2 separate regions of the Homo sapiens genome follow, and region 1 is linked to region 2. The links come from fine-mapping of genetic effects on gene expression. Tissue or cell type: blood mononuclear cells. Region 2 holds a variant in brackets; the other region holds the start of a gene. All regions are shown on one strand. Distances are from middle to middle. Region 1 holds the start of LINC01187 (long intergenic non-protein coding RNA 1187). Region 2 overlaps LCP2 (lymphocyte cytosolic protein 2).

Region 1 (4,400 bases), 49 kb after region 2:
TCCTGGAATGTGTCCCAAGGTCTTTCCAGGGCAAGTCGGGCCTCAGCTCAGTGTCACCTCTCCAAGGAAGGCTTCTCTGGGCTCTGCATTTGATGTTGACTTCCTTGTTTTAATGTCTGCTTAGCACTCTCTGGTCTGGCCTATCTGTTTATCTGATTCTTTTGTGTTTCCTCCATTATCTGTAAGCCCCAGATGTCAGGGAAGTTGCCTGTGTTACTCTCCACTGAATGCCCAGCCTAGGTCATGGTGGTCATCAATTTCATTGGTCACCAATATCTGTTGCTTCAATAAATGAGTCCTCTTCACCCTGTTTGCTCTGTGATAATGAAGCCCAGTGAAGGTCTTGAGCCCCATCATGACTTGAAGGGTGGATTGTGAGAGCTCAAGAGTATGTCTGTGGAGGATGCATTAGGACTGAGTTGGGGGGTCATGACATTTGATCCCTGAAAGCAAGAAAACAGCTTCCACTCTCGGATATGGTTTCCTCTTTTCTTTGATTGCAACTGGTTGTCATGATCCCTCCAGTCCATCTTGGGTGCAGAAACCCTGGGGATTGCCAAAGGCTCCTTTCTGAACCATCTTTTCAAACATGCGGGACATTCCCTGTCCAAGTGAGCTGCAAGGACAAAATAGAAATTTGTGGATGCAAAATGAGATTACTGATGTGGTTGCTGAAACTTATAAAACTCCCTCAGTGATAGGGGTTGTGGTGGCCTGTAAAGGGGATAATGATGACACCTTCAAGCTCTCCTTTTATACCACACAGCCGGTGGAGTCAGGACTTAGGTTCGAATCCAGTCAAGCTATATACATCTGTGTGACTTGGGCAGACACTTTTCCTCTTTTAAGTATCAGTTTCCTCACCTGTAAAATAGGAGTGATAAAACCTACCAAACCTGTGAGATGTCCCCATGACAGAGCACCCAGCACAGGCCACGTAAGGGCTTTCCTGATGTAAGCTTAAGCAGGACAGGCTCGGGCTCAGGACTGAGGCCTCTGGAGCCACCCTCCTACAGGCTGGGTGGCCATGGATAATGTGCTTCACCTCTCTGAAGTCTCGGTTTTCTCACCTGTAAATTGGCCGTAATAACACCTAGGGTATATTTCCTAGGGCTATTGGGAGAACCAGTTAGAATATATTTTTCACATAAAATGTCATTCAGGTAATTATGGCTGTTTAAAGCCTTATAAACTTAGATCTTGCCCTTGTAGACAGAAATGAAACAATTGCTGTGACTGGGTCTGATATCATAGCCAAACCCCTACACAAAACAACAGACTTATCATTCAAACAAATCAGTGAAAATAATTGGTCTTGTAAGTTGTCAATACCCTGTGCAACAAAAGCATTGGTGGAATGACCTTGAGCATTAAGGGGGAGTTGTAGGGATATCTTCTAGAGAAAAGATGGAGTTGTCACCTCCCATGTGCTCTGCTACATCTTCTCTTTAACTTTTCCCTTTGCCCAAAGCAACATGGACCATCTGTTTAATCAACCTCCACCACAACTCCATTCCCCAGTAAGCCAAGTCAGCAACTACTCAAATGCCTCATTCTAAGATGTGCTGATGGAGTGTGGCCTGCCTCAGAGGGTCTCTCCCTTCAAATAGGTCTATATTGTCTGGTTTGTTTGTGAACAGAGCCAGGTAGGTGCCGTGTGGCTCAGAGAGGTGGCTGGAAGTGACCTTCCATGACTCAATTCCACAGGTTTGTTTGCAAGAACACAGACACACGAGTGGCCACTGACAATATGTGTTCCAACATTATATACGGGGTATATTTTGCTCAGAAACATGCCCTGTTAGTTGTTGAAACCTTTTTTGCATTCCCTGAAACAAACGACACTATGGTGTATTTTCTTTTGGGGGGCAGTAAATAAAAGTCTTTTATGTTGACAATGATAATATTATATTCTACAATCTATTTGCATTTCTCTATCCTGTGGATTTTATTGCTTAGTATAAATCCCCAGGCTGAGGTGCATTAAGCTTCACTCAGAGAGAAACAATGCATTTTATCATAGGGCCGGACAGCTATATGCACAAGATGCTACCTGCAGAGATTGGTTTTTGCCCAGATGTGCAGGAGAGATGCACAGAGAGGAAGAAATGCATACATGTGTGCAGGTTTTGGCGTGTGCACAAGAAGCCTGGAAGGATTTTCTTTGGATCTACAGTCAAAATGGATTTCCGAGAGGAAGCTGTCTGAAAACACACCTCTTCCCTGTGCTACATACGGTCCCATCTCTGCCAGCCAGGTTGTCAGGAAAGTGATCAGCACTGGCTTCAACTCTGGCTAGAGCTCTTTGGCCAATGTGATGGGCAGAAAACTGGAATGAGGACAGAAAAGCACCTCAGAGGTTTGAAGAGTCTAGTCTCTCACCACCTTGCTGTAGGTTTTCTGAATACTTCTGAGTTTAGGAGCATTTTTTCTCAACAGGCAAGTCAGGAGCTGCTAAGATAAACCATGGCAGTAAGCTCGAGCCAGTGTTCGTATTTGCCATTGATCGGCCACCAAGTGCTTGCTATGTGCCATGCATTGTGCTAAGCACTATCTCATTTAATATTTACAGCAATCTTATGAGGTAGATGCTACTGTTATCTCCATTTTACAGATGGGGAAACTGAGGCACAGAGTTCCACAGCTGGTAACTTGAGGAATAGGAATTCAACCACTGGAGAGTCTGGCTGGAGTTTTTTGTGGTAGGAGAAAATATGCTGTCTAAATTTGCCTTGGGAAACCATCATGGTGGTCACAAAACCACTTCTACGGCTTGCCTTGACCTAGCAGGAATGAAGATGTAAAGAAAGAATGAGCGCGTCATGGTTATGATGGGATGATGATGTCTGTTGTGTTGTTTGGTGTCAGTTTCTGTAACGCCTTTCTATTTCAATCAAGGCTATTATCTTTTCCTCTGTTTTAGTGAAGTTTCCTTGAAGTAGAAAATGGGAGTGTATTGGGCATCTCAGAGTTTTCAGCTGAACTGAAGGGTCTGATGGTAACTTTACCCCCAAATCTCTGAGAGAAAAGCAGGGAGTCCCTGCTTCAGCTCTGCTCAGAAGAGCCTCCCTCACATGGTGGTTTCTGTGTCACTAGACTGGTTAACCAAATGGTTCTTCTAAATACCCAACTTTTAATAGAAACTCCTGCGGCTTGGATTATTAAAGTCCTAACATGCTTATTTAATCGTGTTTCAAGTCCATCTATCTTTTTTGAGTCTAAGGAAGACTCACTAGGTCAGAAGGAGTAGAGGGAAGAGGATTAATACATGATTTTCTTTTTCCCCTTTTTCTTTTAACTTAGGCTGAGACTTATTTGAATGCCTGTTTCATATGGAGCTTTTAAGTGTAACAGTTGTGAGTGAAATTGCCCCTTTTCAAGGTAATTGAATTCCATTTTTCACTTTCCATTTCCCTCTAGAAAAATCAAAACGTTTTCAGAGCTTGGCTTCTTAGTGGGTGATTTTCTAAGGTGGGAACTTTAGAACCATAAAACATTCTAGTGTGGCAAAGGCATTCAGGAACCGGATGACCAGGCCCCTTCTCCGCAGGTGAACAGCCTCCACCAGCCGGTCTTGGAGAACATATTGATTTCACTGTGTTTTTATTTGAAACACCAAAGGAATGCCCATATCTTGTCCTTGGGCCAGGGCTGTGGGTTAGGGGAGCTGGGTTTCTGTCCAGAATCTTGTCATCTGTAGGGCAGCTGAGGGGCATTATTACCCAGAGGTCCCTGGAAACCTGTGCTAAATTGGTTTGGATCAGTGTCCGTGAAAATGTTGGACAAAGGAGAGTCGATTTTAGCTGACACCTGGACACGACTTTAAATAACACTGTATCACGGAGCAACACAATGTCCTCCCAACTCTTTTTCGGTCTTTCCGATTATGTTAGGGACAAAGTCTCAGTTTGGTGCTGTTGTGGTCGAACTATCTTCTCATCTCTGTTTTTTAAAGTCAGGCAGATCAAGCCTTACTCCTAGGGCTTTAGAAGGTAATAGTTTCTGATTTGGATTTAATCACATTGTTTTATTTCCTTTTTAACATTTTTATGACAACTTTTGCTTTATAGCAGTTTTAAAGGTAGGAAAAAATTTTCGTTTGAAAACAAGTTGGTTTGAGATGTTTTTCACTCTTACATAAAAGACCCACCTTCACAGCGTATGAGCTTCTAAAGTTGGGGAAGCAGTGGCTTAGGTGGGCAGGCAGGAAATTCAAGCAGGTTGGTTTCTGCCAAAGTCAGAGATGATTGCCACTTACTGGAAGGCTGTGTTGGAACAGAGTGGGCACAGGCATTGGGAGCAGAGCTGATTTCCAATCTTCCTGCTGCCCTCGCTGCCTGTGTGTGCCGTGGCCTTCTTGAGCTTTAGTTTTCTCACCTGTGGAACAGGTTTCATGAGCA
Region 2 (4,400 bases):
TAATTTTAACGTAGGCTGCATTTTAAGTTGACACCACCTGGAAAAGGGGAAAAATTAGAATATTTGCTGGGGTGATTATTCAAATACTTGGCTCATTTCTTAACAAAATGGAGGTTTGGCTCTGTGAGGATGGCCAGATCGCCAAAGAAATTCTCTGTTAGGCCAAGGTTTAGATTCTCATGCCAGTCACTTTTTGAGTGCTAATCAGAACGGATGGAAAGAAACCCTCAGGGCTAGTTTTTCGCAAAGGAAACTAACAACTGAAGGTAACGCCCCAAACATACTCTAAGTTCAAAGTTCCAAGAGGAGGACCAGCTGAATCAAACATGTCCAGAATGAGAAACAGCTTACCCATAACTTCTGCTTCACATACTTCTGTTATGATAATGTTAATGAATAGAAAAAAAATGCATGCTTGTGATCAAATGTTTGAATCGCTGGTTGGCAGTGGATAGAGCTGCACAGACCCTATAGGAGCAGAGGTATTTGCCCTTCAAGATTTATCTTGGTCCAGTGTGGAAACACACAAGTGCAGACCAACCACTCATTGCAGCTCCCATGGAGGGAGGCACCTAGCAGATTAGTCTTAAAGGAAGTGCATTATCCTGTTAGGGTTCCTAGGTGAGTTGTGACCCACATCTAGAAAAATGAGTTAGGCTTTTCCCTCTCTAGCAAGCAATCAAGGCTGGGGCGATCCAGGCTATGGCTGCAAATATTGGTTGCTGAGCCTTTATGAGTGTGAAGGTGGCAGTGAGGACACAGCAGAGAGATCATGAAGGAACTCCTGTGCCATGCTGCAGATCCCACCTCTAGACACCATGAACCGTGTCTGACCTCCTGAGTCCTTATGTTTCCTAACACTATTAATGACTGGGGGTGAAATAGAGATGCAGAAACCAAAACCAAAACCAAAAACAGAGCAACCCGAGGCAAGAATATTGTAATAGTGACTATTTAAATGACCCCTTCATATGAAGTTAAAAATATATGCATTTCAAATTACATATATATATATATAGATATGTAGATATATATATATATATATACACACGCATGCACATATTTTATCTATTTTTTTTTGAGATGGAGTTTCCTTCTTGTTACCCAGGCTGGAGTGCGGCAATGGCGCAATCTCGGCTCACTGCAACCTCTGCCTCCCAGGTTCAAGCAATTCTCCTGCCTCAGCCTCCCAAGCAGCTGGGATTACAGGCGCACACCAGCACGCCCAGCTAATATTTTTCTATTTTCTAGTAGAGACAGGGTTTCACCATGTTGGTCAAGCTGGTCTCAAACTCCTGACCTCAGGTGATCCACCGGCCTTAGCCTCCCAAAGTGCTGGGATTACAGGGGTGAATTACTGCACCCGGCCCATATTTTATCTTTATCTATGGTTTGTTGGATGTTTATGAGGAATTTTTTCAAAGTTCTATAGCAGAAATCATTAAACTAATTGCCACATTTACATTTTTTCCCCCCACAATCCTCATCACTTGAAGAGGCAGCATATATTATGCAGATAAAAAAACTGAAAGTGAAGTTCCTGCTTTTCATTCCAATGTTGACTCATCTCCCTATCTTGACTCTTTCAGGACTTTCTGTCTGTGTCAGATATTATTGACTACTTCAGGAAAATGCCACTTCTGCTCATTGATGGGAAAAACCGAGGTTCCAGATACCAGTGCACATTAACGCATGCTGCAGGGTACCCATAGCAAGTT[AT/T]AGCCGAGCAAATGAACCGTCCTCCTGCCTCTGTTGCCAACACGAGATCAATCAGCCTTGGTCAATGGACAAACACTTAGGACTGAACTGAACCCCTCCCCATGAACACAAGGGTTTTATCCTTTCCTTTAAAAACAGTGTTTGAAATGAAGACTGTCAACTATCCCATAATTTATTTATTCTTCTTCAATGTTTGTAAAGTGCATGAGTCATGTTCACACTTGAAGTCTAGTAGTGCACTGTAATAATTCATTTTTTAAAAGATTATTTAATGCCCATTTCAAAATACAGTAGTTTACACAGCTACAGAAACAATTTGGGGCAAGTTTTAAAACACTGAAACAGTAATAGTTATTGGTGTCACATAAAACTGATTTGTTTTTTACAGCCAAACCTCTGTCAGTCAGAGGCATTCATTAGTTTTATACATGTAATTTGAAAATCACTAAACCTCGTTTTCTCAGCAGCAATAATTTAAGAGGCTTCAAAAATATAATTTCACTCTTATTTAGTATTTTTTCCTGGGGGCATTTTTACGTAATTTTTTTATGAAAAGACAAATGCATGTTGAGATAACTTCTGGGATTAAAATAGTCTTTTGCTTTACTTTTTTGGTTTCCTAAAACAACTTTATTGACTTTTAGTCCATACTGTTATATTTTTGTCTTAAAGAAAATTTAAACTACAAATACCAAAAGAAAACATTTTAAATTTAGGGATGAGACTTTGGTGTATCGTGGGTCTAGGTTTAATGAACACATCTGGGGTTAAGTTGGCATTTCTTCACATCTCCACACCCACACCAACCATCACAGCCCCCCACCAACCTTCTCCCAACCCCAAAAGCATTGTCCAGGGATATAGATTTTACCAAAGGCTTCCTGGGAAGACGAGGGAGCAACACTTTAGATTAAATGTGATCAGACTTTCCTATTAGATATGGCTCTTCTGTCTCTTGTTATCCCCCTGACAGCTCTGCCATAAAGTCCCTTCTCCTCATCCTTCCCAAACAGGCTGTATAAGTGCTTTGAGGTAATTAAACTCTTTCCTCCAGTTTACAAATATCACTTAACAAAAAATATAGGCATTCAGCCAGATTAAAAAACTGGTATTCAGCCAAATAGTGACAATCAGTTGTTCTTCAAGTTTTTCCCTTTGGGACCTTGGTTGTTATTGCACAACTTTTATTAGCAACAATTTTTGGCGTCTCTGCTTAATCTACAAGTTTTCGAAATGGAAAAGAGTATCTTGCAGCTTCATTTTCATGAGCTAATAAAAGGGGTATTGGAAGGAATCTAAGAAGTCACCATTTTAAAACTGATGATATGTTAAAATAAGGAGTATGCAGAAGGTAGAGACTTTTAACTGATGATAAAAATGGTGTTTCACAAAATCTCATCCTTAACAACCAGAAGTTCTCAGTTTAGGGTCCAAAACTTGGGAGTTTAAGGCTGAAAACCCTGCATTCATTTACACGTCTACACAACGGGCTATTCAGCAAGTATTTACTTAGTGGCTCTTCTGTGTTAAACAAGTGAGCTAGGTACAAGGTAGTAAGGATAGCATACACCATAGGTTCTAGTATCGAGTAAGCTCCACTTGTCTTGCTTTGCCGTATTCTATCTTTACAATTCAAAAATATCTAAAATGAAGGACCTGATAGATTTCAAAGCAACTATTTGGTAGCGAATCATGTTTATAAAACAAACCAAAGCTCATTTTAAGTCTATTAGTGGAAAGTGCCATCAGGATTAAGATGTTCTGTTCCATGGCTATGACTGAAATCAATGTTGGGAAGCTAATGTTTTCATGACTAGCATTCTCTCTCTGTTCAAGCACCGACAACTCCTTTTGGCTGGGCCTTGCCTCTTTTGGCCACAGACCTTCTATATGACCCCAGGTGCATCAGTCACAGTTGCTCAGAACCCTGCTCAGTGATAAACATCTTACTAAAGCTGGGTCAATCAGGGTCACTCTCTGGAATGTTAAACATGAAGCCTGAGACAAGATCTCTCTTTTATCTGGGGTCCCCAAAGGCAATGCTGTACACTTGGAGCTGCCTGCTGCCCTGCAACTACTCCCATTTACCAATTATCTGGAAGAACCAGTCTACAATAGAAGACAACGAGGCCAACACACAAAAACACAGTAAAAGTATGGACAAATTAGTGGGATCCCTGAAATCTATTCCAACTATGTGCTTCCAAGTCACATGACTCAATAAATGCTTCAGCTGGTTGAGTTGTGCTTGGCGTTCACTACCAGGAGAGTTCTGATTAATAAAAACTCATTCCATCAATTAATAATTTAGTAGCTCTCTTTCAACCTGAGCCAAATTCAAGCATAAGCTAAAGGATAAGCAGTGACCCATGGCCAATTTCCTATGTCATACACTTGCCATTAGTGACGTAAGTTAAGCCATTCTTCAAAACATTAAACAGCCTTCAAGAACATGAACTGCTTGTTTACATTATTTTTATTTTGTTTTAAATTATATATATACAAATTAGTAAACTCAACTCTCCCAAATATTTGTTAGTTCAACAATAAAACAGAAACTCATAACAAATAAGAAATCAGATAGAAAAACTGTTAGAAACAAGGGATACATCTGATATTTTAGACTCTTCAAAGAGGGGGTTGTTTCTTTCTGCTTCTGCTAAGTTCTCAGTCTTGATGGG

The links.
Region 1: it holds the start of LINC01187, and the variant in region 2 is fine-mapped to the expression of LINC01187 in blood mononuclear cells (TOPMed, PIP above 0.99). The same link has a PIP of 0.9 or more in T cells.

What each region holds. Positions count from the first base shown.
Region 1 is chr5:170,196,733-170,201,132 of GRCh38, reverse strand. LINC01187 (long intergenic non-protein coding RNA 1187) reads left to right here and starts at 1,992. Exons shown (of 5, transcript NR_108022.1): 1 at 1,992-2,391; 2 at 3,304-3,381.
Region 2 is chr5:170,246,009-170,250,408 of GRCh38, reverse strand. LCP2 (lymphocyte cytosolic protein 2) reads left to right here. Exons shown (of 21, transcript NM_005565.5): 21 at 1,590-4,176. The coding sequence ends at 1,712. It overlaps C5orf58 (chromosome 5 open reading frame 58), which reads right to left. Exons shown (of 4, transcript NM_001102609.3): 4 at 4,178-4,400. The coding sequence ends at 4,296. Among named protein-coding and RNA genes, the nearest start is that of C5orf58, 15 kb to the right of the region's middle. The variant AT/T (reference allele first, on the strand shown) is at 1,719.